Linked DNA regions of Homo sapiens: regions 1 and 2 are each linked to region 3. The links come from fine-mapping of genetic effects on gene expression. A gene starts in region 3. Each other region holds a variant in brackets. All regions are shown on one strand. Distances are from middle to middle. Region 1 overlaps PRKAR1B (protein kinase cAMP-dependent type I regulatory subunit beta). Region 2 holds the start of LOC105375119 (a long non-coding RNA gene). Region 3 holds the start of PRKAR1B (protein kinase cAMP-dependent type I regulatory subunit beta).

Evidence for each region. PIP is the estimated chance that this variant, and not a neighbour inherited with it, causes the effect.
Region 1: its variant is fine-mapped to the expression of PRKAR1B in whole blood (INTERVAL, PIP 0.96).
Region 2: its variant is fine-mapped to the expression of PRKAR1B in whole blood (INTERVAL, PIP above 0.99).

What each region holds. Positions count from the first base shown.
Region 1 is chr7:661,921-670,094 of GRCh38, reverse strand. All of the region lies in intron 4 of PRKAR1B (protein kinase cAMP-dependent type I regulatory subunit beta), which reads left to right. Among named protein-coding and RNA genes, the nearest start is that of DNAAF5, 61 kb to the left of the region's middle. The variant G/A (reference allele first, on the strand shown) is at 4,670.
Region 2 is chr7:613,491-621,664 of GRCh38, reverse strand. All of the region lies in intron 4 of PRKAR1B (protein kinase cAMP-dependent type I regulatory subunit beta), which reads left to right. LOC105375119 (a long non-coding RNA gene) reads left to right here and starts at 7,091. Exons shown (of 2, transcript XR_007060176.1): 1 at 7,091-7,826; 2 at 8,094-8,174. RefSeq lists enhancers at 7,219-7,719, 7,720-8,174. The variant A/G (reference allele first, on the strand shown) is at 3,583.
Region 3 is chr7:723,897-732,070 of GRCh38, reverse strand. PRKAR1B (protein kinase cAMP-dependent type I regulatory subunit beta) reads left to right here and starts at 4,790. Exons shown (of 11, transcript NM_001164760.2): 1 at 4,790-4,861. DNAAF5 (dynein axonemal assembly factor 5) reads right to left here and starts at 5,372. Exons shown (of 13, transcript NM_017802.4): 1 at 4,756-5,372; 2 at 2,224-2,408. The coding sequence starts at 5,350. RefSeq lists an enhancer at 706-1,205 and silencers at 4,510-4,589, 4,630-4,739, 4,800-4,849, 5,100-5,299.

The DNA.
Region 1 (8,174 bases), 62 kb after region 3:
AGATTGAGACCATCCTGGCTAACACAGTGAAACCCAGTCTCTACTAAAAATACAAAAAAAAATCAGCTGGGCGTGGTGGCAGGAGCCTGTAGTCCCAGCTGCTAAGGAGGCTGAGGCAGGAGAATGGCGTGAACCTGGGAGGCGGAGCTTGCAGTGAGCTGAGATCGTGCCACTGCACTCCAGCCTGGGCGACAGAGCAAGACTCCGTCTCAAAAAAAAAAAAAAAATATGGCACGTGGACCTGCCCACCAGCCTTCTCTCTCGCTCTTGTTTTCATTGTGGCAAATATATATCACATAAAGTTTGCAATTTTAACCTTTTCTTTTTTTTTGAGATGGAGTCTCACTCTGTCACCCAGGCTGGAGTGCAGTGGCGCTATCTCGGCTCACTGCAACCTCCGTCTCCTGGGTTCAAGTGATTCTCCTGCCTCAGCCTCCCGAGTAGCTGAGATTACAGGTGTGCGCCACCACACCTGGCTAATTTTTGTATTTTTAGTAGAGATGGGGTTTCAGCATGTTGGCCAGGCTGGTCTTGAACTCCTGACCTCAGGTGATCCACCCACCTCAGCCTCCCAAAGTGCTGGGATTACAGGTGTGAGCCACTGCACCCAGCCCATTTTAGCCATTTTTAAGTGTTTAATTCAGTGGCATTAGTTACATTCACAATGGTGTGCTGCCATCACCACTCTTTGTTTCCAAAATTTTCATCATTCCAAATGGAAGCCCCACACTTATTCAGCAGTCAGTCCTATCACCCCCTCCTGGGCCCCTGATAGCCCCAATTTACTTTCTCTTTCTATGAGCTTGCCTATTCTAAATATTTCATGTAAGTCATTATGGGACTTAAATGAACCATGATATATGACCTTTCGTGATGGGCTCTTTCACTGAGCACAGTGTTTTCAAGGTGCATCCACAGCATAGCATGTATCAATGCTCTCTTCCTTTTTCAGGGCCGAGTAATATTCCACTCCACGGCCACACCCCATTTGTGTATCCATTTGTCTGCTGATGGACACTTGGGTTGTTTCCACCTTTTGGTTATTGTGATTAGTGCTGCTGTGAACATGGGTGTGCAGGTGTCTGTTTGAGTCTCCTGGGCAGATGCTGATGGATGGAATTGCCGGGTCATATGGTAGTTCCATGTTTAGCTTTTTGAGGAACCACAGATTGTGCTTCCCTTCCAGCCTGACCGAACTCAGAGCCTCCCATTCCTTTCTGTGCCCTCTTGGTGGCAACTGCGTTTCAGCTAAACTCCTCAAATCCTTTCTGGGCTCCTCCCCAGCTCCCAGGCTCTAGGTAGGTTCAGTAAAGCTCTTATTTTAGGGCCAGCCTGGACCCTGAGTGTGAGCTGAGTCAAATGATATCTCTGGGCCATCCCAGCTGTTTATGTCCAGTGCTGGGTCCTGTGCCCTTGGCCCTGAGAATCAGAACGACATGCGCCCTCCATCTCTGACCCCTCTGGATCCGAGAGCTACGCGGACAAGAAACAGAGGAAGCAGATGGTTGGCTTAAAAACTCCTCTTTGTAAGGCTGGCTTGAAAAGGAAGCTTTTGCACAGGGTGTGTGTGTCGGTTTCAGCTCTTTTGTTTTGCACACAGGAAAACTCACTTTCCATATCGAAGCCCCAGTGGGCTCCTTTTTCTGGCCACGGTCTCTAAAGAAACAGGCTGATGGCTCAGGAAACCGGTTCCAGAGGGAGTGGGCAGGGGAGGGATTGTCTCTGGACCTTTCACGTGATGTCTCCCCTGTGCAGCATCCAGATAGTTTGCTTTTTCCAGTTTACTAGAAGCTGAGCTTCATAGCTTTGCCTCTGCTCAGCTGTGGTTTGGCGAGCAAAGCCAAATTCCTTCCAAGTTTACAGGGCGTCTGGCACACCCCTGACTTTGAGGCTGCCTGCTCTTCTTCTCTCTGCTTCCCCGCTTAGGAAGAGTGCGGCAGAGAATCCTTTGCAGATGCATCCACCTGCAGGGTTTGCACACCTGCTGGCCTAATGACCCCTCCGTACAAGTTCAGGTTCAAGACAGATATCCCCATCATCACAGGCTGTGTGACTTTGCTCTTGTCGATCCGTAACAGTGTGGGAGATACATAAGGTTGTGCGAGAGATACGTAAGCTTGGAGAAGGGTAGAAATTATGTTTAAGACCTTTGATTTAAAGGAAGATAGTGCAACGTGGTTGTGAGGGAGGCTGCAACTCCCCCAGACCGCCTGCCTGTCCTTCTAGGATGGTGGTATTGCTAGTTGGCCTTGATCGAAGGGTTTCCCTGGGCCTTTGCACAGGATCTGTGAGAGGCATAGTGTCAACCTCACAGCCTCAGTTTCCTTCCCTGTCCTTGTCCAAGGCCCCACAACTCCTCAGGAGCAGAGCTAGGGTTTGAGCTCGAGTTCTTGGGCACCTAAGCCTGTGCTCCCTCCCCTGTAAGGACACATCACCTGCACCTGCCGCTACCCTGCCTGCATGGTGAAGGAAGATTGAGAATGGGTGATTTAGGCATTGCCAGTGAGCGGGGTCCATACTGTCCTGTAGTGAACTGCAGCTGCAGGGAGACAGCTCAGGGGTGAGACAGGACCAGGAGTTCCCATCACACAGGTGTTGGGCTGGAGTGGTCTTATTCCCAGGCACGCCTATGCACACAGTCATGCACACACAATCTCACTCAGATACCACAGAATTTAAGGTGTGTTTAAAACATCTTTTGGAAGGAGAGAGTTGTGGATGTCATTTATAAGTAATAACATTCTCTGAGCCTCAGTTTCCTCAGGTGTCAAATGAAGATAATAAAACCTACTTTGAGGTTGTTGTGAGAATATAAAGCAAGAATATCTATGTGTGTACTGTTATCACCACCATCATTATCATCACCATCATAGTCATCACCATTACCATCATCACCATCCCCACCATCACCATCATCACTGTCATCATCACCATCATTATCATCACCATCACCACCACCATCCTCATCACCACCATTGCCATCATCATCGTTATCACCACCATCATCATCACCATCCCCACCATCACCATCATCACTGTCATCATCACCATCATTATCATCATCACCATCACCACCACCATCCTCATCACCACCATTGCCATCATCATCTTTATCATCACCATCATCATCATCACCGCCATCATCATCACTGTTGTGGTCATTGTCATCACCATCTTTCTGTGGCCCTTTGGCTGTGTGGCAGTGGAGTCCATGAAGGTACTTCTTCTGGATGGTGCCTTGCCCCTTGGAGGCTGGCCCGGCTATCCAGACAGACCCCGCAGTCAGGCCCCACTCAGTACTTGGTCTGAGAAAGAGGCTGGGGTAGCCTTGAGTCATTCTCTGCTCCACCCTGGGCCTGAGTTGGTGAATAGGCCGCTCCGGGCCTCCCAGCACCCACAGTCAGCAGGAAGATCCCTAGGAGGCCACCTTGTCCCCACCTCACTGTACTGAACAGAGCTCTGAGACCCAGTGAGAGGGGGCCTTGGCCTGTTGCACTGACCCACACAGCAATTGTCCAGCTGGGGCTGGAGTGGGGTGTCCTTATCCCCTGGGACGGCACCTGCACAGCCCCTCTGCAGAGTTGAGTAGCTCCCAGGGCAGGCCCCAGGGTGGTGGTAGGTGCAGCCTTCTCACCTTGTGTCAGCTATTGGAGCGAAGCAGATTCCGCATCCTACCTGGGGTGCCCGGGGCAGTTACGCCTCGGCCAGGGACCTCAGCAGCCTCAGGAAGCAGCCCCGCGTGCTCCGGAGCTCTCTGATGTGCCAGGACCATGAAGGCTGTCCCTGGAGCGTGTGTCCCAGGGAAGCAGCCCCGCATGTTCCGGAGCTCTCTGATGTGCCAGGACCATGAAGGCTGTCCCTGGAGCGTGTGTCCCAGGCCTTGGGGAGTGAGGTGGAGGCCCTTGGGTTCTATCCCGGTCCCTTCCCGGCTTTCCCTGATTAGGGCGCCTGTAGGGGGAGCATCGCTGAGCTCCTGGGAGCCGAGAAACGTGATAATTGGGTGGCACCGTGCGTGTTTGTGTTGTGCGTTGGGCCTCCGGCGGGGACCTCATTACTGGAGCTGCCAGACGGGCACAGGCGAGGGCACCTCACCCTTGAGGCGGCCTTCCTGGCAGTGGCTCCAGCTCTCTGCTGCTTTAATTAAAACAGGCCTCTGGCTTGAGCAGCACCGCTGGCCTGCGCAGCTGTCTGTTATCTGTCGCTGTTTCTCTTCCTCCCACCCGCGTATCTCTGCAGTCTGTTTTTCCACAAACTGGCTCGGATCCTCAGGTGATGGGAAAAACAAGCCCTTCTGCCGAATTCACGGGCAGCTGAAGGGAGCTGTCTCCTGGCTTCTCTGAGCCTTCACGGCCCCCTCTCCCCATTCTGGCTTGGGCTTTGGGACTTTCTGCTTCCCTTTCGGGCAACATTAAAAAAACAAAATTAGCATTTTGGAAAATGCAGGGCCTCATCCGAGGAGATGCTTAATGGCTTGAACATGCAAAGAATTTGATTTCCATTTGCAGAAAGCCCAGCTGGATCTCAGCAGAGGAGACCTTGAGGTTAGCAAATCAGGGGCCACGTGAGCCCGGGAGGCTTTAGAAGCTGAATTCAACGGAGGCTGAAGCCTGGGGTTTGAAGCTTGCATCAGATGATGTATGCAATGGCCAGTCCCTGGGCCATGGGCCTC[G/A]GGCATGTTGTCTTTCTAGAGCTCCCCCGTGGCCCCCGAGGCTGCCGTTTGGCAGGGGAGGCAGAGAGAGGTTAAGCAGGCTGCGTCGGGCCACCCAGCTTGGAGTAGAAGCTGGGACTTTGACCTGGCTGGGATGTGGCTGCTTGGGGCTGACTTGCCCACCGTGAATGCACACACAGCTCATTAACCTGCCGGGAAAAGACAACAACCTTTTTAAGAGAACAGTCATTTTCCACACGCCTAGCGTTTTCCAGCTAATAACAAGTCTCGTGGCCTGCGCCTGGAGCTGCGGGGCAGTTGCAGCTCTCCGTGGAGCCTGTTTCAAAGGGTCTCCAGGGCTGGCGCTATCTAATACCACAGTGACAACAAGCCCTCTTGCTTTGTCTGATTTGTGAGTGGAGAGAAGAACCTCAGGTCTTTCTTACCACTTCCCCCAGGTGATCGTGGCCTGCGTGGATCTTGCCTGTGGTCCTGGCTGTTTGGTGCCCTGAGATTTTTGTTTTTGTTTTTTTGAGACACAGTCTTGCTCCGTTGCTCAGGCTGGAGTGTAGTGGCACGATCTTGGCTCACTGCAGCCTCGACTTCCTGGGCTCAAGTGATCCTCCTGCCTCAGCCTCCCGACTAGCTGGGGCCACAGGCGTGCACCACCACACCCAGCTATTTTTTTTTTTTAGTTTTTGTAGAGACAGAGTCTCGCTGTGTTGCCCAGGCTGGACTTGAGCCTCCTGGGCTCAAGCGATCCTCTGGCCTCAGCCTCCCATAGTGTTGGGATTGCAGGCATGAGCCACCACACCCAGCAGCTGCTGTAACATTTTGAAACTTGTGGAATTTGGTGGTGTGTGGTCTCCGGTACCACATCTTCTGACCCCTAGCCAGTTCACGTTTTGTTGTCACTGACAAGCCCCTGCAGACCTGGGGGCTGAGATGCTGCACGTGGCCTCTGCCTCCAGCACCCAGTATGTGGATGGGGACCCGAGGCCCAGAGAAGGTGCAGGAAGGCCCACTGCCCCGGGCAGGGAATGGGGCTGTCCTTCAGATGGAGGGTGCCAGGGCAGAGGCTGTGTTCATGCAGGCCTGAGGCTAAGCCCTGGTGCAGCACTGGCCACTGTGCTGTGTCGGGGACCACATAGCGACCAGAAGGAGGGATGCACCAGCTTTCACATTCCGACGGACGCCATGGGTCCTGGCATGGCTCCATTCTTGAGCCCTGGTCACTAAAAATAGCCCCGTCGCCTGCCAGCGGGTGTGAGGAATTCACCAGCTGGCTGGGGATGGGGGTCTGTGGAGAGAGGCCAGGCGAAGGGAAGGTTGCGTGGGGAGGGCCCTCCATGGAGGGGAATGTAACCGTCGAGCTGGTCCTGGCCCTATGGGGCTCCTTGTAATACAAAGCATCTTGTCAGCAATTTGGTGACCCTGTTCCCACTTGTCGGGGGGGACCCTGAGGCTCAGAGACAGCGGGGGGCTTGCCCAGGTCACACGGTTTCCGTGGGAAAGATCAGCCCTCCTGAGACCAGGCCCTGCACGCCCACCTGTCTGCTCCCTGCAGAATGAGGAAGCCACTCCGATTCGGGAGGCAGTTGTAACTCACGCTCCCTGAGTTCTGCTTGGGGTCAGGTGTGTGGCTGAGAGCTGTGAGTGTGCTGTCTCGCTGTCCTGATGGCAGCCCTGAGGGCACGTGGTAACACTGTCCCCAAGTTCCAGGTGAGGATCTGACACACGGAGAGCTGTGGCCACCTGCTTCGGGCCACCGCTGCTGCCCAGACCACCACATGCACCCTGGTTTGACCACGGTCTGTGTAGGGCCAGGACCCTGGGACACAGCCGTCCCCTCCCCTCCTGACCGAGAGCCTTTTCTTTTCTAGTAGGGACCAGTATTTTAAAAGTGAATGGGCCGGGCACGGTGGCTCACGCCTGTAATCCCAGCACTTTGGGAGGCTGAGGCAGGGGGATTGCTTGAGCCCAGGAGTTTGAGACCAGCCTGGGCAGCATAGCAAGACCCCATCTCTACCCTCCTCCTAAAAATTAAAAAATTAGCTGGGCATGGTGGCATGCACCTGTAGTTGCAGCTACTCAGGAAGCTGAGGTGGGAGGATTGCTTGAGGCTGGGAGGTTGAAGCTACGGTGAGCTGTGATTGCACCACTCCTCTCTCCAGCCTGGGTGACAGGGCAAGACCCTGTCTCAAAAAGAAAAATAAGTAAAAATAAACACACATCAATAAAAAGTGGATTATTGTCTGGTTGTCTCATGGGTGTGATAGTTGCTGCTGGACCACTGAGGAAGTGACTGATTCTTCCCGCGGGTGGGCCCTTGTTCATCAGACCTAGTGAAACTTCAGCCACATCCACAAGGGATTTTCCAGGCAAAGAAGAGGGGGGACTAAGTTCCTGAGTGTCTTGGGGCCTCTTTCAGGACTCTGTCCTGTCTGTTCATTGAACACTCTTAGATCTTTTCTGGGTTTCAGTCTGTTTGAAAGCATCAGAAAATGTTAGGAAGGAAGAGGGTGATGAACAGGGTGGTGCTTCTGGAAGGCCCCTGCTGTGGCCGCTCCGAGGGTGAGAGCCTGGGCCCCAGGTGGTGGGGGGAGCTTTGGAGGCTGGGGCCCAGGACTCAGCATTGCTTGGAGGGTGTCCCAGGAGACTTGCTCAGACTCTGCTGTGGGTGCCCGTGGGACTGGAGGGGAGCTCAGGCATGGGGAGAGTAGGTATTTGGATCTGTTGGGGTGGGGACCTGTGCCACTGAGGGGAGAGTAGGTATTTGGATCTGTTGGAGTGGGGACCTGTGGCATGGCGGGGAGAGTAGGTGTTTGGATCTGTTGGGGTGGGGACTTGTGCTATGGGGGGGAGAGTAGGTAATTGCATCTGTTGGGGTGGGGACCTGTGCCACTGGGTGGAGAGTAGGTATTTGGATCTGTTGGGGTGGGGACCTGTGGCATGGGGGGGAGAGTAGGTATTTGGACCCGTTGGGGTGGGGAACTTGTGGCACTGGGGGGAGAGTAGGTATTTGGACCCGTTGGGATGGGGACCTGTGCCATGGAGGGAAGAGTAGGTATTTGGACCCGTTGGGGTGGGGACCTGTGCCATGGGGGGGAGAGTAGGTATTTGGACCTGTTGGAGTAGGGACCTGTGCCTTGCGGGGGAGAGTAGGTATTTGGACCCGTTGGGGTGGGGGACCTGTGCCATGTGGGGGAGAGTAGGTATTTGGACCCGTTGGGGTGGGGACCTGTGCCATGGGGGGGAGAGTAGGTATTTGGATCTGTTGGGGTGTGGACCTGTGCCATGGAGGGAAAGAGTAAGTATTTGGACCCACTGGGGTGGGGACCTGTGCCATGGGGGGGAGAGTAGGTATTTGGACCCGTTGGGGTGGGGACCTGTGCCATGGGGGGGAGAGTAGGTATTTGGATCCGTTGGGGTGGGGACCTGTGCCATGTGGGGGAGAGTAGGTATTTGGACCCGTTGGGGTGGGGACCTGTGCCATGGAGGGGAAGAGTAGGTATTTGGACCCGTT
Region 2 (8,174 bases), 110 kb after region 3:
TGCTGTGACATCACCCCACACAAGCATCTGTCACCACTGCTCAATAGTGAGCCCCTTAGGGAAGGGTTGCAAACTCGGGATCCTGGGGGTTCAGGAATTAAGTGGAAAACGTGGAGTCCTTGGGAATTGTGGCAGATTGGAGATGGTCATGCTCCTTCCAAAGTGGGGGTGAGCTGAATTCTTGCTTTGGGAGTACAAGGTCCCTGTGTTGTCAGACTTTTCTTTTTATTTTCTTTTTTCAAAGGAAAGCCAACAATTTGGATTTTATGAATTTTGTAAATTTTTAAATATTGGGAGATGATTTTGAAAATACCATCAACATTGGCACATGAATAAATAGAAAACCTGAAGAGATCTAGAAGCATTAAGTAAGTTGAAATGGTAACCAAAGACCTTTCCTCCCAAAGGGTTCTTTCTGATGGTTTCACTGGTTGAGTTCTTTCAAACATCAGCAAACTGTCTATTCTTACTTCTCAAATTGCTACAGAAAATAGAAAACAAGAGGAAGCTGCTAGATCATTGTATGTACTGTACTGTGATCAGGTGGAGATGATCCAGAATTCAAGGATGGTTCAACCTCAGAATACTCTATCCATGTAAATCACCATATTAGTAGATTGTAGAGAAAGAGCATGTGACATGTCACATAGGTGTTGGAAAAGGTTTTGACAAAGCTCAACAACTATTGCATAAATTCTTAGCAAACTAAGAATAGGGTCACTTCTTAACTTGGTAAAGGTCATACATACCCAACACAGAGCAAACATGCTAATGGAGAATCTTTGGCTACATGCTCTTTAAGGGAGGGACCACAATGAGGCTCTGATGGCTTTCATGGTTTAACTGTGCTTGGGAGGTCCCGGCAATGCTATAAAGAAAGAAAAATAAGAGGAGTCCTAATTGGAAGGGTAGAGAGAAGATGAATTTGATCATGTCTATGGAAACCAGCATAGAATACACAGAACAACTCTTACATTCTTATGAGTGTTCAGCAGGGTTGGTGCAAGCTCAACTTACAAAAATCATCATTAAGAAGCCCAAGGAATCCATAAATAAATATACACAATTTTTCTTTGTCAATTTAAAGAAAATTTAAAAATACGGATTCCTTCCCATCACAATGAAGATATTAAATCTGTCTCAACAGAAAGAAAGAGAGAAAAAAAAGAGCCCAAGGGGCTGGGTGGGTGCAGGGAATGAGAAAAGAGACACAGATGAGGAGTAACTGGAGAATAGAATTTGAAAGGATGCCATTCATGAGGGCAACAGCCACTGAGAAGTGGAATGTGCTTGACAACAGATTACAGAAGACTCTAGGGAGGAAGTTTTAAACCTCTATAAGGACATAAAACACGATCTGAATAGGGAGAGGCGGTCTGTATTCTTGGGTGGAATGACTCAACGTGATGATGTCATTTCTCCCTCACATTAATCTCTACCTTCAAAGCAGCTCCACTTCAAATTGCAGCTGGAATATTGTGAGGCAGTAAACACATTCGGAAATGTGAATGAGCTGGGTGCGGTGGCTTATGCCTGTAATCCCAGCACTTTGGGAGGCTGAGGTGGGAGGATTGTTTGAGCCCAGGAGTTTGAGACCAGCCTGGGCAACACAGAGAAACCCCATCTCTAAAAAAAAAAAAAAAAAAAGTAGCTGGGTATGATGGCATGTGCCTGTAGGCCCAGCTACTCAGGAGGCTGAGGCAGGAGGATCACTTGAGCCCAGGAGTTCGAGGCTACAGTGAGCTATGATCGCACCACTGCACTCTAGCCTGGGTGACAGAGTGAGACCTTGTCTCTAAAAAACAAACAACAAAACAAAAAACAAAACAACAGAAAGAAAAAGGAAAGGAAAGAATAAAAATTTGCAAATAACTAAGTCATCTTTGAAACAGAAGCACAAAGAAGAGGGACTTCTCCTACCAAGAGCTGAGGCTCAGCAGGAGGCCTTGATCATAAATGGAGCCAGGTGCCCTGCAGGAAGGGACGGCAGAACAATGGCGTGGGGCCGAGAGCTGAGAGGAGGTGCAGGCACACATGGGAGCTCCATATTTAATAGATGCAAGAGGTAGTTTAGTGCAGTGGTTAAGACAAGGACTCTGGAGCCAGATCACCCGGTTTTGAATCCCAGCACCACCATTCCTTAGCTGTGTGACCTTGGGCAGGTTCCTTAACCTCTCTGTGCTTCTGTCCTGCTCCCACTTGTATGTGAGGATAAGGGGAGTGATGATCATATATGCCACAAGGTTGTTGTGAGAATTAAATGAGCAACTGTGCGTAAAACACTGTGTTAGTTTCTAGGGCTGCCATAACAGAAGGACAAACTTGGCCTTAACAACAGTGATCAAGCGTCTCATGCTTCTGGAGGCCAGAAGTCCAAGCTCAAGATGTGGGCAGGGCTGGTTCCCCCTGAGGGCTGTGTGTGGGGATCTGGCCTGGCCTCTCCTTGGCTTGTAGGTGCCGTGTTGCCTCCCTGCTGTGCTTTCGTCCGACTCTTCGCTCTGCGTGGACACTGTGTTTTCCCTGTGTGTGTCCAAGTCTCCTCTTTTTATAAGGACACCAATCATATTGAGTTAGGGCCAACCCTACTCCAGTAGGACCTCACTTTTTTCAAGACAGGGTCTTGCTGCCAGTCTGTGGTGCTCTGTGATGGCAGCCCAGGCAGACATGTCGGAGAGTATTTCATTACTTGGTTGTGGGGAAACACTTTCTTAAACAAAACCCACAAAGCACAAACCATAAAGCAAAAAAGAGGTTACATCAGATGAAAGATGTCTACCTAATTAAGGACATCATGAAAAAGTTAACAGGTGACTGCGTGTAAGAAGATAGTTGCAATATCTAAACCCGACAAGCAACCGGTATCTAAAACACACAAGGAATTTCTGCAAATCAGCAGGAAAGAAGGTACCAACCCTTCTATCAAGATGGGCACAGGATATGAACAGGAAGTTTACAGAAGAGGAAACACAACCAGAGGAGAAGCCCTTGAAGAGCAGCTCAGAGCTTAGAGATCAGGGAAATGGAAATGCAAACAAAACGGCAGTTCAAAGCCGCAGCCCCAACGTGTCAGGCAATGTGGTGACGTGGGTAGATCTAGAGTATGTGGACTCCTTGAAGAAAAAGAAGAAACAGCATGAAATCTGCAGCAGGATACCATTTTTTGGTTAAATGCACATAGCTTAAGATTCTATGTTTTAAGAGAAAACATACAAACGAGAGGGGAGACCTCAAGTATCTTATAGCAATTGCCCACAGACCGAGAGGGCTATGGGAAGAGAGGAATAAATGTATAGGCAAAACAAGAACAGATCACAGAGCGGCATGAACTGAGTGCTCCATATTTACATCTGGGGTTTAAAGAAAAGATGTTGGAATAGGATGTCCCACGAAACACAGGTGTTGCCAAATGCATGGTCTGTGGGCCTGTCGGGAACGGCGGGGTTTGCTGCCCTGTGGCCCCAGCAGGACCCAGTCTGAGTGCTGTGGCTGCCTGTGAGCTGAGTGCAGGGATATGGGTGTGCGGGCTGTGTTCCTGGACCTTGCCCTGCCTCCACCTCTCCCACCCTCACTCCGGCACTTACC[A/G]CTGGTGGGGAGGAGCCTGCACTGGTCCTGGGTTTGGTGGGGGCGGTGAGGGGGTCCCAGGCGGAGGGTGGGGGAAAGTGGGTGGGGCCTCTGCTTCCCTGGAGGCCTCCAGGCTTGGGGAAAGTGAACACAGCTCAAGAGTCTGTGTTTTAAGAGAAACTGGAGGTGTCTGTGCAGGGGCGGGGTGTCTAGGCTTTCCCATACAGCCCTTTGCCCGGATAGAGGCTGCGAGTTCCAGCTGGGTGAGTGCTACGCGGGGCCCAGGAGGGGTTTGCTTTCCGTCCGACCTGCCACGTCCTGGGCTCTGCTCCGGGAGGGGCCTAGTGCCTGCTGCCACCCCTTGGGTTCACAGGCCCAGGCTCTGCCTCCTGCCAGGACGGGGGAAACAGATGGAAAGCTGGGGCCGGGAGAGTATCTGGAATGGACCAGGGTGACAGTCGGTGACAAGGACCCATCACCCAGTGTGACTGTTCTTAACCTACAGGGCTGGGTGGGACTTGACCAGCTGGCCTGATGTTAGTGTGGGTCTGAGCAAGTGACTAAGCAATAGGTTGTGCCCAACACATGCATTTGCACACCAAAAATTAGCTTGCTTTTAAAATGGCACTTCGTTAGTTGGGGGTGGTGGTTCGGGCTGGTGGTCCCATCTGCTTGGGAGGCTAAGGCAGGAGGATCGCTTGAGCTCAGAAGGTCAAGGCTGAAGTGAGCTGTGATGCTACCACTGCACTCCAGCCTGGGTGGCAGAGTGAGACTCGGTCTCTTTAAAAAAAAAAAAAAAAAAAAGGCACTTGGTCCTGCGTGGTGCCTCACACCTGTAATCCCAGCACTTTGGGAGGCCAAGGCAGGTGGATCATGAGGTCAGGAGTTCGAGACCAGCCTGGCCAACATGGTGAAACCCCTGTCTCTACTGAAAACACAAAAATTAGCTGGGCATGGCAGTGTGTGCTTGTAATCCCAGCTACTCGGGAGGCTGAGGCAGGAGAATTGCTTGAACCTGGGAGGTGGAGGTTGCAGTGAGCTGGGATCGTGCCATTATACTCCAGCCTGGTCGACAGGGCGAGACTCTGTCTCAAAAAAAAAAAAAAAAAAAAGCACTTGGGTGTTGGGGTTTAGATTTTAAAATAAACAAGAAAACCCCAAACTTTCCTTGTTGTTTAAATTACCCGGGATGAGCACTTGGCTGTTTTGATTGGATGGAGAATAAAGGGCCCGAGGCGCTTCACCCCATTTGTACTTTTTTTCCCAAAAATACATGAGGTTGGGATTCATGGATGGCTTTTGGCTTCAAGGGTCAGATCTTGTCCTGAATGTGTCTTTGAAAACATCGATGCCGCGGGCATGACTGGGAACCACACCTTAGAGCTGGGTGTGGAGGGAAAAGGCTGGGCTGTGAAGTTGTAGCCGTCAGCAGGGAGGGAGGCCGACGGACCCTCAGCCAAAGCGGTGCGTGGCACTGGGGTCTGGTGGCCGGTGAGGAGCCGCTGTGCGATGGCTGCCACAGCAGAACTGGGTGGAGCGTGCTTCTGGGACCACAGCCTGAGGAAGCCAGGCCTGCCTAGCTTGGATGAGCCCCGCCGGCTGGCAGGACGCAGCTCCGGAGAGACCCTGGGCTCCATCACTGTTTCCCAGCTGGTCCCCTGGTCCCCCGGATCAGTGAGGACAAAGTGAGCCAGGCAGGCCTGGTGGGCACAGGTGGTGGCTGCGTTTGGCCAGAGGTGGAAGCGTGACTCTGGGCAGGTGGAGGGGGAAGGAAGGTCCCCCATCTGCGGTGGTCTGTGGTTGATGGAGATCTCTGACCTCTCCAGGCCCTGCGAGTCTGTCCGGAGTGACCTCGTTTTGTCAGTGAGAGCCAGGGGGCTGCCTCCAGCACAGGGGGCCAGGACCTGGGGCGAGGACCCACTACACCAGACAGGGCCTGTACCTGCAGCCAAGAGGGGCTGAGACCCACCCAGTGTGTTCTGCGTGTGCACCCGCGGGCAGGGCTGGGCCTGGGAGGGTCTCGGCAGTGGTGAGAGCACAGCCCCTGCCTGGGCTCAGCCTCAGCCTCAGCTGCTTTCTCTCTCTCTCTCTCTCTTTCTTCCTTTTTCTTTCTCTCTCCCTCTTTCTCTCTTTCTGTTTCTTTTTTTATTTTTCTTTCTTTCTCTGCCTCTTTCTTCCTTTTTTTCTCTCTTTCTCTCTTCCTTTTTTCTCTTTCTCTCTCCCTTTCCCTCCCTCCCTTTCTTCCTTCCTTTCTTGCTTTCTTTTTTTTTTTTTTTTTGATGGAGTCTTGCTCTGTAGCCCAGGCTGGAGTGCAGTGGCGCGATCTCGGCTCACTGCAAGCTCTGCCTCCCGGGTTCATGCCATTCTCCTGCCTCAGCCTCCCGAGTAGCTGGGACTACAGGCGCCTGCCACCACGCCCGGCTAATTTTTTTTTGTATTTTTAGTAGAGATGGGGTTTCATAATGGTCTCGATCTCCTGACCTCGTGATCCGCCCACCTCGGCCTCCCAAAGTGCTGGGATTACAGGCATGAGCCACCGCACCCGGCCTTCTTTCTTTCCTTCTTTCTCTCTCTCTTTCTTTCCTTTCTTCCTTTTTTCCTTTCCTTTCCTTTCTTTTCTCTTCTTTCTTTCCTTCTTTCTGTCTTTTTTATTTTTTATTTTTATTTATTTATCTTTTTGAGACGGAGTCTCGCTCTGTCTCCCAGGCTGGCGTGCAGTGGCGCGATCTCCGCTCACTGCAAGCTCCGCTTCCCGGGTTCCAGCAATCCTCCTGCCTCAGCCTCCCGGGTAGCTGGGATTACAGGCGCCCATCACCATGCCCAGCCAATTTTTTGTATTTTTAGTAGAGACGGGGTTTCACCATGTTAGCCAGGATGGTCTCGATCTTCCGACCTTGTGATCCGCCTGCCTTGGGCTTCCAAAGTGCTGGGATTACAAGTGTGAGCCACTGCACCTGGCCTTCTTTCTCTCTTTCTTTGTCTCACTCTTTCTTTCTGCCTCTCTCTCTCTCCTTCTTTCTGTTTTTAGAGACAGGGTCTTGCTCTGTCACCCAGGCTGGAGTGCAGTGGCACAATCTCAGCTCCCTGCAGCCTCAACCTCCTGGGCTCAAGCAATCCTCCTGCCTCAGCCTCCCGAGTAGCTGGGACCACAGGTGCATGCTACCATGCCCAGCTGAATTTTTTACCTTTTTTGAGACAAAGTCTTGCTCTGTCACCCAGGTTGGAGTGCAGTGGTGCGATCTCAGCTCATGGTAACCTCCGCCTCCCAGGTTCAAGCAATTCTCCTGCCTCAGCCTCCCAAGTAGCTGGGATTACAGGTGTGTGCCACTACACCTCACTAATTTTTGTATTTTCAGTAGAGACAGGGTTTCACCATGTTGGTCAGGCTGGTCTCGAACTCCTGACCTCAGGTGATCTGCCTGCTTCGGCCTCCCAAAGTGCTGGGATTATAGGCCGTGAGCCACTGTGCCTGGCCACGCCCAGCCAATTTTTTTACTTTTTATAGAAATGGGGTCTTGTTATGCTGCCCAAGCTGGTCTCAAACTCCTGGGCCCAGCGATCCTTTCACCTCCTTATGGTGCCCGGTCTCCCAAAGTGCTGGGATGACAGGCATGAGCCACCCACCACATCTGGCCCATGTCAGCTTCCTAAGCCTCAGCTTCCTTGTCTGTGAAGTGGGGCAGTAATGGGGCCTGTGGCGGTGAAGTTCAGAGGAGGGGATGTAAACGGGGCGTTCTCTCAGGTGAAAGGCATTCAACCCAGCCTTTTGTCAGAAGACCTGGGTCTTAGCCGTGTTCCACCATCTTGGAGCTGATGAGGCAGGTTGAATCTGTCATTCTGCGCATCCTGTCGTATATGCTGCTGAGTGTTTTGTGTAGACAGTCCTGAGTGGCTGAGGTTGGGCAGATGTAGCCAGACTATGGACAGAGGCTTCCTGTGAGTCCGAAGAAGTGCCCAGCCCTGCGTTGGCCTGTCCTGGTCGGGCGTGCGGGGCGTGGAGTCTGCAGGCGTCTGTCATCTGGGCCTGGCTCCCCTCCCCTCTGTGGGCGCCACGCCTCCCGCCCTCCATGCTGACCTGAACCTCACAGTCCGGTTCCCTGGGTGGTGGACGAGTCCTTGGGTGTCTCCCACCCGCTTGGTGGCAGCCCTGCTTGCCCCTGCGGGGACCTCCCAGCACTGCACCCTCTTGGCTCCGCAGGCTTCCCTGTCCTGGGGCCGGGAGAGGTCTCTGCAGGCTGGGGAGGGGTTTCTGGAAACATTCTCAGGTGAGCTTTCCCGTGCAAGTCCCAACCTGCGCTTGTCTTGGCTCGGGAGGCCCGGAGCGGCGGGAGGAGGAAGGAAGTGGCATTTCTAGGAGCTGATGGTGTTTTCCAGGTGGGCCTGGTCGTGGCTTTTTCACCCTCGGTGTACCGTGTTGGTCGGTGGGCCCTCGTAGTGGGAGCTGGACCTGTCTCTGCAGGTATTGGAGCAGATTCACAGTGCGGAACGATGGGCTGAGTTACTCACGTTCAACCCCGCGTGTGTGATTTCAGGGGCTGAGCTTGGCGCGCCATCTCCTTGCCTTTTGAAGGCGAGTTTGGCTGTGAACGGAGCTGCTGGTTCTGATCCCGTAC
Region 3 (8,174 bases):
AGTTATTTCCAGGCCCTTCCAGTGAAGTTCAGTGATTTAAGCCGAGTCTAGCAGGCTGCTGGAAGGTTTCCTACGAGTCAGAAGGCAGTCAGGACCTTCTGTGCAGAGAGGATGGGGTCCCAGGGCACCAGTCCCTGGGTTGTTGAGGGGGTGGAGGTGTCTGCAAGGAGCCCACATGGAGCTCCAGGACGGGGTCGCAGGGCTGATCAGAGTAAAAGGGGCAGCACCGTGACTCCACACGAAACTCACGTGAAGGGCCGTGCAGGGTCTCTAATAGGACGCAAACCCCATTGGGAAGAAACGGGCCATGCTGGAAGAATTGTCTTGGGCCACACATAAAATAACACTAACACTAATGATAGCTGACGAGCTAAAAGAAAAAAAAAAATCACAAAAACAATCTCGTAACATTTTAAGAAAGTTTATGAATTGGTGTTGGGCAGCATTCAAAGCCGTCCCGGGCTGCATGTGGCCCACGGGCCGCAGGTTGGACAAGCTTGCTTTAGATCAACAATGTGATGTCAGCTTTCTAACAGACAGCTATTGATACAGAGTAGGCTGCTTATACATAGCTACCAATACAGTTATAGCATTTATAGGCAGCTGTCGACACATAGTTATGGTATTTTTAGAGTTACGGTATAGTTATACTGAGTTACACCGTTTACAGCTAGCAATAGAGTTCCAGTATTTACAGAGCGTGCTCCACAGAGTTCCAGTATTTACAGACAGCTATCGATACAGTGATGGTATTTTTAGACAGTGACGGTATTTTTAGACAGTGATGGTTATTTTTAGACAGTGACAGTAGGCTTACACCGACAGCTATCAGCTATGGAGCTTCAGTATTCACACAGAGCTCTCCATACAGAGTCATCACACTGTTTTGAGGAGTAAGACTTGGCCCATGACACAGACTCCACTTTCCTTGTGGGCCATGCTCTGCCTCAGGCTTAAGGAAGGTGGGAGAGAAAAACCAGCCGGCCGCCTGCACTTCTTGCTGGGCTCTGTTCTTGCCCTGGCCCCTTGAACTGCCCTCCGCAGCCCAAATATTTAGCCAGTGCCAGAAGTGCCTGCTGCAAGTGCCGGGCAGCATGGACACTGACCCCGCACTCTGCCCACTTTCTCCCCACTGGGCAGAGCCTGATGTCCTCAGGGGCCCTCTGTGCTGCCTGGTGCCGAACCCACGCCAGCTCCAGGAGGGGCCGGCCAGCGTACATGGTGACTCAACTTCCGCTGGCCTGATGAGACCAAGGGGGGTGAACAAAGGCTCCTGGTGGGAAAGGGTCCCCCTGTGTCTCTGCGCACAGCCCCTAGGCAGCCACTCTGCTGCTGGAGGGAGAGAGCCGGAGAATGAAGCCTGGCCATGGAGGCAAAGCAGGGGTGTCCTGAGCAGGTGCTATGTCACACCTGGAGCCGGCCCTACGGGTGGACCCCAGCAGCACAGACGAGGGAGCGAGTCAGGGCTTCCATCCTGGCCCCAGAATACCCCGAGTGACTCTTCAACTCACCACCTTCAAGCCATTTCTCATCAGGAAACCTACCTCTTCAAGGCTGAAACCTGGAACCATGCACAGTGAAGAGGCCAGACACAAAAGATCACATGTCTGACTACGATGACAGGTAACTCAGAGACAGAAAGATCAGAGGTCACTCAGCTTCCCCGGTGGCCACAGTGTGTAGCATTTTAGCAAGTCACTGGGGCCTCAGATCCAAGACATGCCCTCCAGGCCAGATTCTGCCAGCAGTAAAGCCAACACTCAGCCCCATCTGTAGGACTCCTGCCTGCCTGCCTGCCCGTCTCTTGGTGGGTTCCAAAGCCCAACGACATAATTATCCCCAACAAACCAACCCCGACTCCACTCTTCTCCCAGTCCAGGTCCACCAACCATGGTGGCTTTTCGGGAAAGTGCGTCTTGATGGATGGGAGCACTAAGGAACCTTCTGCAACTGCTGAAGTGCACACTGTGCCTAAGAGACAATAACTACACAAGTCATCCTTTCTAACATCCTTGGAATTCATAACATCAAACATTAAAACAGTTCAGCTCTCTTCTAGTTTTTCCAAGATGTGAACAGGAACGTCCTGTGACTAGGAATAATGAAAGGACATTTGGTGCATACAGCACTCTGAAAAAAGAACAAGTGAGTTAGTTAAAAACAGCACGTCAGCCCGCCTGTGTTGGAGAGAGGAACAGACTGTCCAGGAGAAACACCAGTTACCTGCGGGACGTCATCAAACAGTCGCTGAGCAAAATGGGAAAGCACGTCGTCCACGGACTTCCCGTTGCCAAAATGGATCACTGCGCCTGTGGCTTCAATGGCGGCCACACGGACCTTCCAGTGCTGGTGGGAGATGGTCTGCATCAGGGGCCCGATCAGAGACTCCGACTGCATGTGGAAGTGGTCTGAGGGACAGGGAGGCCCCCAGTTACCAGAGCTGCTCCCACACGCCTCGCCCAGCTCTGTGGGCTTCCAGAGGACGGCTGCCTGCCTATGAGTTCCTCACCTCCCTTCCTCTCCTACGCCAGGTCCTTGCTGCATGAACAGTACACAATCCAGGCTGCCAAGGAGAGCTCTGTACCGCCCGGCACAGGAAGAGGCTCAGGGACAAGCGTCCCACCCTGATGACACCTGTGCAACCCAGAGGCTTAGGAGGACCAGCGGGGAAAGGCTGGGGGTGCAAACCCATTGTGGCTGAAGACCAGAGAGCCTGGACCTGCTGAAGCCAAGGTGGAGGCCTGACGGGGACACTGGCCAGAGGAAAGAAGCCGAGCCCAGAAGACAGAGGCGAGGCCACACTCCCAGCCCCACCTGAGACGAGACCCCAGGCTCCTCCAGGAAGCTGGGCCAGCACCACTCCAGGCAAAGCCACTGCACTTCCTATTTGTAAAGTCCCCGCAGAAAGTCAGAACAAGAGGTGGCAGGCGCCTGTAATCCCAGCTACTTGGGAGGCTGAGGCAGGAGAATCGCTTGAACTCAGGAGGCGGAGGTTGCAGTGAGCTGAGATCGCCCCACTGCACTCCAGCCTGGGAGACAGAGTGAAACCCTGTCTCAAAAAAAAAAAAAAAAAAAGTCAGAACCAAAGGGTCTCTGGCATCCAGGCCGCCTCTTGCCTCAGCTCTGCACTACTTGGGGCCCGTCTGGGAAACGGCTATTCCAGTGAGACTTTGGGTGAGCGCCTCAACCTCTCTGCCGTTGCCCAGTGTGACCGAGACCAGAGGTGAGGCCCCCCACCCAGGGGAGAGGAAGGCCAGAGGTGCTGGAGATGAGGGGATGCTCCAGGCAGAGGCACAGTCCCTCACCCCACAGCAACCAGTGAGCACATACCCCAGCAGGCTGCGCTTGGGGCTGGGGCACAGATGGGCACAGTGCTGTCCTGTGGAACCTACGGTCCAGGGAGGGAGCTCGTGGGGCTGATGTACAGACTGGGTAGGGAAGTGGTTGAGGATGAAGAAGAAATACATTAAATGCCAGGAATTCTCAATGGCCATGTCCATCCAGCCCAAGGTTCTTCCCCAAGCTCCACAGGAGTTCTGGACCATGTGAAATCCAAAGTTAACCAACGTGGAAATCTCGGCATTTCCCCAAGTCCAGCTCTTCCTCTACTTCTGGAATCTATTCTCCACGCAGCTGCAGTGATCTTTTAACAACCTGAACTCGGGTCTATCACTTCTATTGACACCCCCTGCACTTCCCACTACATTCAGACCATCACTGGGACATCACTGGGACGGCCTGAGCTGGCCAGATCCCTCACTGCTTTCCTGCTCCCTACCGCCCACGGATTTATAGCATCAGTGTTCCCTCCTTCGGAAAGCCTTCCCGCCAGCAGGAAGCAGGCGCCTGCTATCATTCCACATCCCAGCCAGGGGAGGGAAAGGGCAAGACCCTGCAGGAATGGCCAGCTAAGGAAAGGGAACGACCGGATCAGATCAGAGCTCTAAAAAAGATGGGGAACGTTATAAAGTGGAGGGGAGAAGCGGCCTCCTTCCACTTAGGACAGTGGTCCAAGCCAGAGCGGAAAGGCAGGGGAGTAGGATGAATGGGACAGAAAGTGAAATGACCAGAGCAGAGTCTCAAAGCGCGTGCCCTCAACCAGGTGCAAGTCCTGCAAGCCCCCGAGGGAAGGAAAGGGGGCAGCTATCAGGGCACACCCCACCCCAAACCGCCTAACAGGAATTTCTGCGGTGGTTTCCAGGTATCTGGACAGAAGCGCTGGCTCGTGGGCCCGGGTGGGGTGGAGGGGGCTCAGGCAGGGAGGAGGGTGGGAGGTGAGGGTCGCGGGAGGGCGGCGTGCAAGGAGGAGGATGGCACAGGATAGGCAGGTGGAGGGGGCACAGGGAGCAGGCAGGTGGGGGGCGGGGCTTGGGGCGTGGAGGGTGGAGGCGGGGAGCAAGGGGACAGGGGAGTGAGGTGAGTGAGGGCCAAGCAGGAACAGGGGTCACGGGGCAAGGAGCACGTGGCAGCGCAGGAAACAGGTACATGGGGGTAGAGGACAAGGGAGCAGCTGAAGGGCGCGTTGGTGGCGGGACGTGAGGCAGGGGAAGCAGTGGTGGTGGGAGGAGGGGGCCGGGCGGGGTGCTTTGGGGCAGGCGGGTGGGGGAAGCGGCGCATGGGGGGTCCGGGATGTTGGGGGGTGCGGGCGTGGAGGGGGGCGGGGCCGAGCCGCGGGGGTTGTGAGAGGGGCCGCGGAGGTGGAGGTGGGGGTGAGAGTGTGGGGTGGCGTGTGGGAGCGGGGCCCGGGGTGCTCACCGGGCGTGGCCTGCGCCAGGGCGGCGGCGCAGCTGCAGCTCTCGCGGCGCACGGCGGCGAAGGGGTCGAGCAGGGAGCAGCGCAGCGCGCGCAGAGCGTCGTCCAGGTGGGGCGCGAGCGCGGCGCCGCACAGGTCCACGGCCAGGCCCAGCAGCTGCACAAGCGCCAGGCGCAGCTCCTCACAGGCCTCGGGCGGGCGGCGCGCGGGCACGGGGCCGGCCAAGCGCGCGGCGAGCGCGGGCAGCAGGCGCGGCAGGGCATCGCGGGGCCGCGCGGCGCGGCGCAGGCCCAGATCCAGCAGGTGCACTGCCAGCGCGCGGCAGCCCTCGGCGGGGTCGCTCAGGCAGCGCAGCAAGCGCGGCAGCAGTAGGCGCGCCCAGGGGCCCTGGAAAGCGGTGGGGTCGGCGGCAGGGCCTGGCTCCTCCAGCGCGCGCCGCAGGGCCTCCAAGGCGCGCCGCCGGCCCGGCTTGCTGTCGGCCTCCAGCCCCGGCAGCAGGCGGCTCAGGGCGCGGCTCAGCTCCACCGCCTCAGCCGTCTCGGCCCCCTCAGCCGGGTGTGGGGCCGCCACGGCCTCCGCCACCCCCAGCGCCGCCATCTTGCCCGCGTCGCCGGTCACTAAGGGGAACAGCGCTTTCGCGACTCTCAGCGCAGATTACGGCAGCACTTCCGGTCCGCGCTGCGGGCGGGGCGCCGGGCTACTTCCTCCCCGCCGGTGCGCACGTGGGCCTGTGCTCTTGTCGTGCTCGCCCGCTGTCCCCCTCTGTCGCCGGAACCCCCGCCAGCCTGCCTGCTGGGCCTTGTCCTGTCCCCATTGTACAGATGGGGAAGGTCTCGGGAGGGTGCAGCTCGCCCGGGATGCGGGTCCCGGGCTATAGGCCTGGGCCTGCCCCTAGGGAAGCCTGCCCTGCAGCCTAGGGGGCTTGGAGAAGGAACCTGAGTGGTCCCGCCTGGGACCAGGGTAGCCGGGAAGCCCCTGTTTGAGCCGCCTAGAGCCCCTCTGGCTTTGGGAAGGTCCGTTCCAGGAGGGAAGGACGCTGGTTCTGTGGACTGGATCCCCCTGTGGTGTAAGACAGGTGCCTGGTCTGGGCTTCACGTGCAGCCTGTCATTAGATCTCAGGCGTAGCCGCCCAATAGGTTCGCCTTACTCGCTGCCCAGGTAGAGCCAATTTATCAAGACAGGGGAATTGCAATAGAGAGTTTAATGCATGCAGAAACTGGCTGCATGCAGAAACTGGCTGCATGCAGAAACTGGCTAAAGGACACTGGAGCTTTATTGCTCAAACCAGGTTCTGAAAATCCTGAGATGGGTCATCTAAGGATAATTAGGCAGGTAGGGGGCCAGGGAGAGGGCAGTGCTTATTGGTCGGGTTGGAGATGAAACCATGGAGAGTCAAAGTTGATTCTCTTGCTGTCTTCTGTTCCTGGGTGGGATCACAGAACTGGTTGAGCCAGATTAGTGGTGTGGGTGGTGGCACCTGGTGCATCAGAATGCAGAGCCTGAAAAATATCTTGAGCACCAATCTTAGAGTTGATGATAGTGGTGTTATCCTAAGGAGCAACTGGGGAGGTTTGGAATCTTGTGGCCTCTAGCTGCATGACTCAAACCACAATTTCTAATCTTGTGGCTCATGTGTTAGTCTTACAAAAGCATTCTGGTCCCCAGGCAAGAAGGAGGTTGGCTTCAGGAAAGGGCTGTTATCATCTTTGTTTCAAAGTTAAACTATAAACTAAGTTCCTCCTAAAGTTAGCTTGGCCTACTCCCAAGAAATAACAAGGCAGCTTGGAAATTAAAAGCAAGACAGTGTTTCACAGTAGTGACCTTGACTGTGGACTTGAGTGGAGACAGAGGCGCCTAAACAGCTTGGAGTCGGAGTTGCTGTGAGCCCAGCCTAGAACGCGAGTTTGACAGCACTCACTGCAAACCAGGAGTCCCCAAGTCTGGTTAGCCAGGCACTTCTCATCTGTGACCATGCACTGAGTTTTCTAAAGGCAGAATGTGTGTAATTTTAGGACAGAACTTCAAGTTTGACCTTCTTTTTTGTTGTTGATCTTCGTGTTGCAAAATGGTGGTGTTTGTCGGTACGTCTTTTTTTTTTTTTTTTGAGATGGAATCTTGCTCTGTCGCCCAGCCTGGAGTGCAGTGGCGCGATCTCCGCTCACTGCAGACTCTGCCTCCCAGGTTCATGCCATTCTCCTGCCTCAGCCTCCCAAGTAGCTGGGACTGCAGGTGCCCACGACCACGCCCAGCTAATTTTTTGTATTTTTAGTAGAGACGGGGTTTCACTGTGTTAGCCAGGATGGTCTCGATGTCCTGACCTCGTGATCCGCCCGCCTCAGCCTCCCAGAGTGCTGGGATTACAGGCGTGAGCCACCACGCCCGGCCCATCAGTACTTCTGAAAAGTTGTTATGTAGCATATTCAGTAACCTTCATTCATTGTTTCCTCCAACAGGCATTTGTTTGACCAGGCACTGTCTGCAACATGTGGGACAGGATGACAATGATGTAGAAACTGGCCATGGTCCCTGCTCTCCCAGATCTTAGGGTCTTGCAGGATGAGATAGCCCTTAATGGAAGGATAAATTAGTATGTGTTTAACCGTGGTGGTCCTGAGAGAATGAGTGTCAAGGGATGTTGAACTAGACTTTTAAGGCTTCCCTGAACAAATGGTAGCAGAGGTGAAATATGAAGAATAAGTAAACACAGTGTATTAGTCCATTTTCACGCTGCTAATAAAGACATGGCCGAGACTGGGTAACTTATACAGGGAAAGGTTTACTGGACTCACAGTTCCACATGGCTGGGGAGGCCTCACAATGATGGCCGAAGGCGGGAAGGAGCAAGTCACATCTTACATGATGGCAGCAGGCAAAGAGAAAATGAGAGAGCCTGTGCAGGGAAACTCCCCCTTATAAAACCGTCAGATCTCGTGAGACTTATTCACCATCATAGGAACAGCACAGGAAAGACCTGCCCCCATTATTCAGTTACCTCCCACTGGGTCCTTCCCACAACACGTGGGAATTGTGGGAGCTACAATTCAAGATGAGATTTGGGTGGGGACACAGCCAAACCATGTCACATAGCCAGGTGAAAGGGCGGAGGTGGGAGACGGGGAGTGTTGGAGAGAGAGGAAATAGCATGAGCAAAGGCCTCATGGGAGTGTTACGGGCTGAATGGCGTCTCCCCAAAATTCATATGCTGAAGTCCTAACCCCCATAGTTCAGGAAGTGATCCTGTTTGGAGACAAGGTCTTTGCAGACGTGATTGAGGTGAGATGAGGTCATGAGGTTGGGCACTCATCCAATATGACTGCTGTCCTCATAAAAGGAGAAATTTTGGAGATAGACGTGCATACAGGGAGAATGCAGTATGAGCATGAAGAGAGACCTCAAGAGGAGCCAGCCCGTACCCTGATCT